3 separate regions of the Homo sapiens genome follow, and all the other regions are reported to be linked to region 3. Evidence: microRNA targets listed by miRTarBase, many of them from high-throughput screens and not tested one by one. Region 3 holds a microRNA gene; each other region holds the end of a gene's coding sequence.

Region 1 (3,000 bases), not on the chromosome of region 3:
TGCTCCAGAGAAAAATCTTAACACAGCAGCAGCAGCAATTTAACTGCTAAAGAAACCCAAAAGTAGGGTGGGGGTAGTTTGGGTGGTCTTCCTGCAAGAGGTTACATGGTTCATCATCATTAGGTTTTAATGGAAATACGTGATGTGGACTAGCAAAAAAAAGAAAGATACCATATTAAAATAAGAGGAGGATACAAATGAAGGGATGAAAGTAGGAAAGAAAAGGGCACCTGTGAAAACTCACAAACTTAAAATAACATTAGTGTCAACAATGGGCACTGTGTTGCTTCACTTGCAACATACAGCACCATCAGGTAGGTATGCCTCTTTATCAACTCTGAAAGTGGCTAAATGGTGCTTCTGTGGCACTAATCAAGTACACTCATTCTGTTTTTCTGCATGTAGTTGACAGTGGACTCAGAAGTCAATTCTCTATTGACATGTTTTATAATTATAGAGTCCTTATAGATTTCTCAGGGTGAGACAAAATGCTTTCAAATATCCAGGGTGTAAGTCATAGAGATGCTTAACAACTATGATCTACTTGCTGGCTCAGAAAATGTCTACCTAAACTTTATAATTACTGGTCAAGAGCCAGAGAAATAGAACATGCCCATTCGGATTCCTTTGAGTATCTGTCCATAAAGAACACACAGCAGTACTGTATAATTCTGAGGCTGATAAACAGGTAAGATGTATAAATTATCTTATCCACAAAGAATTCAGTGTTAGTTTACTAAGTTAGTTCTCAATCCTCACATAAAAGTCATTGAAAAACAGAATTTTCATATATACATTAATAATTTTAATGATTTCTTTGTATCTAACCAATTTAGGTAATATTTTCTTTTACACAGAAGGTCCCAAAATAAAGAATAATACACAGAATACAGTCAATAGGTTATATCAATTTACTTCACATAAGAGCATAATTCAGGCCTTTTCCATTTAATAACAAAAACAATCTGTACAGAAAACCCAAAGGCAACCACATAGCATATGTAAAATGTGCAAATACACTTTAAAATGCAAGTTATTCTATAGCATTTGCAAGATAGAATTTCACTGTAATTAGGGAATCTAGTTCATCCTAACTTAATAGTCTTTTGCATGTATAGACAATGCAATTCTACAAGGCACAACTCAGCGTTGATGCTAAAGTATGAAACACATCCTCAGATTATTTATTTGAAAATATTAAAATAGCATCGTTTATTATTTTTTAATGAGTCATGAGCTCATTTCTAAAGCTTCATAAAGCATTACACTGATAACATATGTGTGGTCAGGACAAACTGTTCCCTGAACTTAAAAGGTGAAGGACAAGACCCCATATTATTATCCTGTATTAAAAAAGGAAATATACATATATGTACACAGACACCCCATATCACAGACAAGAAACTTCCCATAATTCAAAGGGAGACCATTTCCTTATTAGCAAAGGTGCGCATTACAGTATTTCATGACAGTTAAAAATTACACACCTACCACCTGTTTTGGTCAATCTTGCTAAAAAAGACACTGAAATAGACAATTTTCTTCTTTAAGGTAAAGACAATGTCTAATTTAGAAAATCTTCCTCTTGAGATTGCACAGTGAAAGGTATCAGTTAATTAAATATAAAAGCTTACCGTTTTTGTTTTTTTTTGAGACAGAGTTTTATTCAGTCGCCCAGGCTGGAGTGCAATGGCGCTATCTCGGCGCCCAGGCTGGAATGCAGTAGCGCGATCTCAGCTCACTGCAACCTCTGCCTCCCAGGTTCAAGTGATTCTCCCGCCTCAGCCTCCTGAGTAGCTGGGATTACAGACACTCGCCATCATGCCCAGCTAATTTTTGTATTTTTAGTAGAGACGGCATTTCACCATGTTGGCCAGACTGGTCTTGAACTCCTGACCTCAGGTGATCCACCCATCGTAGCCTCCCAAAGTGCTGGGATTACAGGCATAAGCCACCATGCCCAGCCAAAGCTTACGCTTTTAAAGAAATTATTTAAATCTACACAGAAAAAAATATCAACTTATTAAAAACTATTAAGAGCACTGTCTATAATTCAAAATCTTTCAAACCCAATCACAAAGCTCTTTGCTGTTTTATTGCCCATCCCTGAGTAAAGATTCTATCATTTGTAATTTTTTAATAACGTAAATTTTACATTGATAAGAATGATGTTTAACAATTTTTTTGAAAATATAAAATAAACCCTATATCATTTTAGTAAAAAAAAAAGAAAATATAAATGCTCTTTGCAAAGACCACCATTCATAAAAATTGTAAATATTTGTATGTCAATTTCTGACATCCTTTTTACTGGGTAATTTCTGTTTTTATGCCGTTCATATATCGCTCATTTCCTCATAACCTGTTATTTTGTACCTTTTGTTAATAGGAGTATTTAATAAGTAATGGAGGAAAAGTACAATATAAAACCTAATGGAACTCTGAAGTGAGATGTGTATTTCCCTGTGGTAAAAGAGTTTTACTGGAAACAATTAATGCGATCCAAATAGACAAAAATATCTATGAAAGAAAGAATACATATGGTAAGCATCTTCCTTGTCTTTGGCTTAGCCTTCTTGACCAAAATCTTCTGTAAACTTCTTTAATTTCAACAAGTCATGTTCATTGACTGTAGGTTTTGTGTTAGATAGTGACCGCAACATATCCGACTGTCAGGGAAAAAGAAGGGTAGGGAGGATATTAATAATAGAGTTAACAAAATAAAAAACCGTCATATTATCATTATTGCTATGAACTTTAACCTAAGTTTAAATATGAATATTTGCAGTCTGCCATAAGATACTAACGATAAACTCCCTATTCTTTTTTTTTTTTTTTGAGTTGGAGTCTCACTCTGTTGGCTCAGGCTGGAGCGCAGTGGCGTGATCTTGGCTCATTGCAACCTCTGCCTCCCAGGTTCAAGAGATTCTCCTGCCTCAGCCTCCCAAGTAGCTGGGATTACAGGCACCTGAAACCACACCTGGCTAATTTTTGTATTTT
Region 2 (3,000 bases), not on the chromosome of region 3:
AAAGAACAATTATATTTATATAGTTTCAGGTTTTATTTTCATAATTATCTTCCTATAGAAGCAATAATCTGTATTTCCATAACAACACATTTAATATTCTACTCATCAGAGTTGGGAAAAATAGGAATAAAGCAGATTCCATACAGAAATACCGTACTCTGCATATGTACAAATAAATTCAATATATTAAATCTATTTTGTAGCTGGACTTCACTTACAATGTAACAGAACATTGAATATTAGATTCTGAGCATATTCATGCAAACTTCCACTTTGGTGAAAGTGATGACAGTGGAGTTCTGGAAGACAATTTTCCTTGTAAACACCAAGTTTTGCACTTTGGACTATGCTCTCAAGATAGAAACTTACGTGAGTGGAAAAAGAAAATGTATAAATGTGAAACAAATATTCCTTACCACACAGAATAACCCTGACAACAAACAATATCCCCAAGTCCTGGTTATTCAATCCTCACCGTGGGCAGGAAGGGTGAAGGAGGCTGCACCTGGACACAGCCTTTTGTGTGGTTTAAAGCATAGCTGCGCTGCTGCTACAGAATGCACTTCATCATCACCTTTTTTAAAAAAAGTTTTCAGTACATAAGAAGAGTAAAATTAAAAAATTTTTTCCCCCAGACTTTAATGGGTAATATGATCTATCTATACATAAATAGTCTACAGTATCTTTAAAGTATTGCCAAATCTGTTTAAACAGATTACTAATTAGCTCAAATGAGCATTAATGTAAGACTCCAGAAGTTTCCGATTGGATCTAAAGGATACAAGCTGCAATGATGGGATCTTTGAAACACTGCAATGTCCTTAAATGCAAATGTCTACATATAGCTTGTTCATAGTTAATCCCAATATCATTAATAAAAATGAGGTGCTACCTGAAGAACTATGCCAATAAATTAAGGAAGAAAAACATTAAATTTATTAGCATTTTGTATCAGACTTACAATAAAGACTGTATACCAACATCCACGCACCCGAGACCACCTCCCAAAGGAGGATGTTATTCTAAGCTCTCCCGCAGAACTGTGACTAAAATCACTTCTGATACTCCACCTTAGTGTTTTCAGGAAGTCTAGCAAAATTAAGCAACCTATACTCAAATAAGGTATGACTCTAAAAGAGACAGAGACAGGGCATGGATGAGCAGGAATTACTTTGGCAGCGTGTACCTGCAGAACGCACACTGCTGGTGTCTGTAGCCTCTTTCCAATTAACAGATTACGAGATGGGTCTAAGCCACACAACAGGGTGAAAAAGGAATGTTTCGAAAACAGCATTTTAGGAAATAACTATAAAGGATCAATATATTGGCAGTGCGGTGTTTTAAATATTGTCTTTCTAAAACAATTCTTCCCTTTCAGCTAAGTTTTCATAGTATATAGCATTTTCCATGTCAAGTTATGACGGAGTTACAATCAAAATAAAATAAACAATCAAAATAAACTGTTTTGGAGGGAAGAAATATATCTGTATTAGACTGATGGAAACATTACCTCATTCTTACAATGTTAGAAAGATATTCATAGGCTGGGTGAGGTGGCTTATGTCTACAATCCCAGCACTTTGGGAGGCCAAGGCAGGCAGATGGCTTGAGCTTAGGAGTTTGAGAACAGCCTGTGCAACATGGAGCAACTCCATCTCAACAAAAAAAATAAAAAAAAAATTACAAATTAAAAATAAAAACATTAGCCTGGGAGCCGTGATTGTGCCACTGCACTCCAGCCTGGGCAAAAGAGTGAGACCCTTAAAAAAAAAAACAAAAAACAAAACAAACAAACAAACAAACAAAAAGGTATTCATTACCCATTAGCTCCTATTTGGTCAAGAACCAAGTAGATTTGAAGACAGTCACTGTATGTATTTTTTAGATAGAAGAAATACCCACACTTCAGAGAGGACTGAAGATATTTATAGATCACTTCAATATGCTACCTTCAAAATTTTTCAAACTCATAATATATAAGAGCTTCAATGCATCTTTTATTGGGCTAAATAATATTGTAAGGCTCAAAATAACTTCCTGTCCCCATCTCATCTCTGAAAAGACTTAATAATTTAAATGTATCTAACATCATGGGGGATAAATTTACTTTTCAAAACAAAAAAATTTTAAAATGATTTATCAGTAAACATCACCTTTAGCAGCAATTATTAAATGAAACGTAAAAAACAATTCACTAACAGTAACTTACAAGTGTCCAAGAGAGAATACCTATGCTTATTACCCCTTTTGTTTAGAACATAATTTATGTATAATTTGGCTTGCAAATTTTTTAATCAATGTATTAAAACATGACAGTACATTTTCTGTTAATTCCTGCTGGTGTCTTAGAAAAGCTCTTATGGAAAGAAAAAGATATGCTTCACAGGTAATGGATACAATGAGTGATTTGGGAAGATGGTAACTAAAAACTAGTCTTTATTAGGATCCAAAATCATGACTGTAATGAAGTACGGATATCCCTAATCTATTCCCAAGTCCTTGAAATGGCATGTCAGGATTTTACCTTTGTTTCCCTTTTCTTTTCAGCAAGCAAAATACTAGCATAGTCCTCCTGAGTATTCATCTTCCTCTTCATCAGCAGCCGTGGCAGTGACACCATCAGGCTTGGCCTGTGGTGTTGCAGGTGATTTCTTCTTGATTCCCCCTCCTGGAACCACCAAACTCAGGCCCAGCTTAGCATACTGTCAACAACAGAACATGTTCTTAAAAGCTGGATAACTAGAATCCTAACATGTTTTACTCAGCTCTAAAAAGACACAGCCTGGCTCCCCACCCTCAGGAACACCAATTCTACCATTCAGATGGAAAAACAAAGCCCAACAATGCTGCTCCCCAGATGCCTCATGACCATGGTGGGACAGGTACACAACTAGTAAAAGTTTCAATTATAAATTTTTTTTAATTAAAACTTTAGAAATATATATATTTTCAAAACCTATGTAAGACGTTATTTAGAAAAAAAATTATCTACATATATCA
Region 3 (3,152 bases):
CGCTCCCTCTACACTCTGCAATGCTGCCTGTAGTATTCCCGCCTGCTTTGACATCCTAAATGTGGGGAAATGTGTTTGTGTCATGTTTTCTTAGCAGATAAGCAACCAAGGAAGGATGAAATTCAAAAGGACAAGGTCTGGATCTTTTTCTGTACTTAGCACTGTGCTTGGCATTTGGGATCAGCAGTGCAAACAGGTAGTAGCCAAAGGAGGATGAAACACTGGGTTAGAAAGAAAAAGTCCTGCTAGAACATTAAAAAAAAAAAAAATGATTTCACGGAGAACCCTGACTCATAATAGGAACTGGTTTTTTTAAAAAAGGAAGTAATAATATGTAGTGAGTATACTTTACTGCAGTCAACTATATATATTCAAAGAGCATAAAATATGAAGCCAGTGAGTGAGTGATCCTTTTATTAATTAAAAAAGAAGTTGAGTTGGGCGCGGTGGCTCATGCCTGTAATCCCAGCACTTTGGGAGGCCGAGTTGGGCAGATCACAAGGTCAGGAGTTCAAGATCAGCCTGGCCAACATAGTGAAACCCTATCTCTACTAAAAATAGAAAAATTAGCCAGGCGTGGTGGCACATGCCTGTAATCATAGTTACTCAGGAGGCTGAGGCAGGAGAATTGCTTGAACGCAGGAGGCGGAGGTTGCAGTGAGCTGAGATCGCACCACTGCACTCCAGCCTGGGGGACAGAGCAAGACTCTGTCTCAAAAAAAAAAAAAGAAGATGAATTAGTAGAGCATGAAGAATAATGAATGAGTTGCTAGGTAATTTGCCATTCCCTCTGCCTGGATGCCTTTTCCTCCAATTGCCAGTTAGTTTTAAGGCCACCCTTCTCTGAAATAACATAGTACTTTGTACTTGGGTCATGGTATTTATCACAGACTTCCTTTTATTATAGTTAATTCTGTACATGTTTAATCTTTCTTACTTGATTCTAAGCTCTTTAAGGACAGGGTCCACATCTTATCTTCATTTCCTTCTTCCAGCTCTTAACAATCTGTGATGTTAAGCATATTTGAAAATAGACATTGTTAGAGATTATGTTCTTTTAGTGAAAAATCGGCCAGGTGCTGTAATCCCAGCACTCTGGGAGGTTGAAACAGAAGGATTGCTTGAGCCCAGGAGTTTGAGATCAGCCTGGGTAACATGGTGAAACCCTGTCTCTACAAAAAATACAAAAATTAGCTGGGTGTGGTGATGCAGGTCTGTGGTCCCAGCTACTCTGGAGGCTGAGGTGGGATCACTTGAGCCTGGGAGGCCATGGCTGCAGTGAGCCATGATCACGCCTCTGCTCTGCAGCTTGAGTGATAGTGACAGAGCAAGACCCTGTCTCAAAAAAAAAAAAGAAAAAAATCAGTGAATGCCTTGAACCTAACACACTGCCTTTTATGTGGTAGGTACAGTGGGCTCACTGAAACATTCAACTTGTTCAACTCTATCCATTTGTCCAAAAACAAAAAGGAAATGAAAAATTCTAAATACAGTACGAATATGCCCTCAATTCTACTTAATTAGTATATGTCTGGAATGAGTGTGACATGGAAGATTTGAATCTGCTCTTCTTTGCCTCTGCTCTCATGTGCCTGTGCTCATGTGTATCGTAGAGTGCTTAGAGTGATTCTAATGCTTAAAACAAATTTTCAATCTCTGTGGCCCCTAAACCAGCCAGCCGTTTCATCTGATGTGTAAGACAAGGCTCCACTGGATTCATTCATTGCCCACTGAAACAATGTATGATCCTGTGAGTGAAAGAGAGAAAGAAATCAATGGCTAGGGATTGAATGTCTTGTGGAATTTTATGACAAGAAGACATCTAGGGAAAACCATGGAAATGTCCAGTCTGAAGATCAAACAGTTCATAAAAGTGATTCAGAAGACACTAAGAGCAGGTGAAAGGGAAAAACAGAACTTTACAAAGCAAAGTTGCTTTCTTGGCTTGCTTTCTTCAGAGCTGCTTAGGACCAGACAGCTCTATGTGCCTGAGAGTTCCTGAAGGAATCTTAGCATTAAAATACAATTTACCATGAAATACTATGCAGCCATAAAAAAAGGATGAGTTCATGTCCTTTGCAGGGACATGGATAAAGCTGGAAACCACCATTCTCAGCAAACTAACACAAGAACAGAAAACCAAACACGACATGTTTTCACTCATAAATGGCAGTTGAACAATGAGAACACATGGGCACAGGGAGGGGACCATCACACAACAGCACCTCTCGGGGGTAGGGGGCTAGGAGAAGGGTAGCATTAGGAGAAATACCTAATGTAGATGACCAGTTGATGGGTGCAACAAACCACCATGGCACGTGTATAGCTATGTAAAAACCTGCATGTTCTGCACATGTACCCCAGAACTTAAAGTATAATTTTTTTTTAAAAAAGTACAATTCATAGGCTGGGCGCAGTGGCTCATGCCTGTAATCCCAGCACTTTGGGAGGCCAAGGTGGGCAGATCACTAGGTCAGGAGATCGAGACCATCCTGGCTAACATAGTGAAACCCCCGTCTCTACTAAAAATACAAAAAATTAGCCGGGCGTGGTGGTGGGCGCCTGTAGTTCCAGCTACCCAGGAATCTGAGGCAAGAGAATCACTTGGACCTGGGAGGTGGAGGTTGCAGTAAGCCTAGATCGTGCCACTGCACTCCAGCCTGAGCGACAGAGTGAGACTCCATCTAAAGAAAAAAAAATACAATTCATTACTTAGATATTAACAATGAGCTGCAAAAAAAGCACTCCCCCCAAAAAAAGCCCAATTACATTTAGAATATTCTTTTTTAGAAGTCATGGGAGTGTGTAATACGCTTTTAAAGTTTTCTGTTAAAATGATTTAATGGTGATTTAATGTCTCTTTCATGCATATTGTTTTGTCTCCCTAGCTAGAAGTCAACTTTTCAATGAAGTCAAGTATGCCTGGTACTTGTTAATGTGTTCCATGTTGTTCACTGTAGTTACACCTACATAGACATCCAGCCAACAGTCATTGAGTCTAATTACCATATGTTCATTTTTAGGTAAAAGAGATGCAAGGGAATGAGGATAGTCAGTCCTTTGCTTGTCTTAAAACACCGATAAAACATTGGACTTTGGAATGAAAGTACGAGTAAGAGAGAAAAAGGCATATGTACCAGGTCCTCAATACT

The links. Region 3 holds the annotated microRNA hsa-miR-5094 (AAUCAGUGAAUGCCUUGAACCU, at 1,361-1,382, shown strand). A microRNA usually pairs through its seed, bases 2 to 8, with sites in the 3' UTR of a target mRNA and lowers its output. Matches are read on the target gene's strand: a 7mer-m8 pairs with bases 2 to 8, a 7mer-A1 pairs with bases 2 to 7 and ends in A, and an 8mer does both.
Region 1: the mRNA of VPS4B is a reported target of hsa-miR-5094. Seed matches in the 3' UTR shown: 7mer-A1 at 1,607-1,613.
Region 2: the mRNA of NAPG is a reported target of hsa-miR-5094. Seed matches in the 3' UTR shown: 7mer-A1 at 2,138-2,144.

Annotation. Positions count from the first base shown.
Region 1 is chr18:63,388,408-63,391,407 of GRCh38, forward strand. VPS4B (vacuolar protein sorting 4 homolog B) reads right to left here. Exons shown (of 11, transcript NM_004869.4): 11 at 783-2,669. The coding sequence ends at 2,568. Among named protein-coding and RNA genes, the nearest start is that of KDSR-DT, 23 kb to the left of the region's middle.
Region 2 is chr18:10,549,779-10,552,778 of GRCh38, reverse strand. It overlaps NAPG (NSF attachment protein gamma), which reads right to left. Exons shown (of 12, transcript NM_003826.3): 12 at 15-2,702. The coding sequence ends at 2,559. Among named protein-coding and RNA genes, the nearest start is that of NAPG, 25 kb to the right of the region's middle.
Region 3 is chr15:89,848,920-89,852,071 of GRCh38, reverse strand. It overlaps MIR5094 (microRNA 5094), which reads left to right and starts at 1,351; the gene lies at 1,351-1,435. All of the region lies in intron 8 of ARPIN-AP3S2 (ARPIN-AP3S2 readthrough), which reads left to right. The region is part of intron 4 of AP3S2 (adaptor related protein complex 3 subunit sigma 2); the gene reads left to right. RefSeq lists enhancers at 306-355, 2,667-3,152.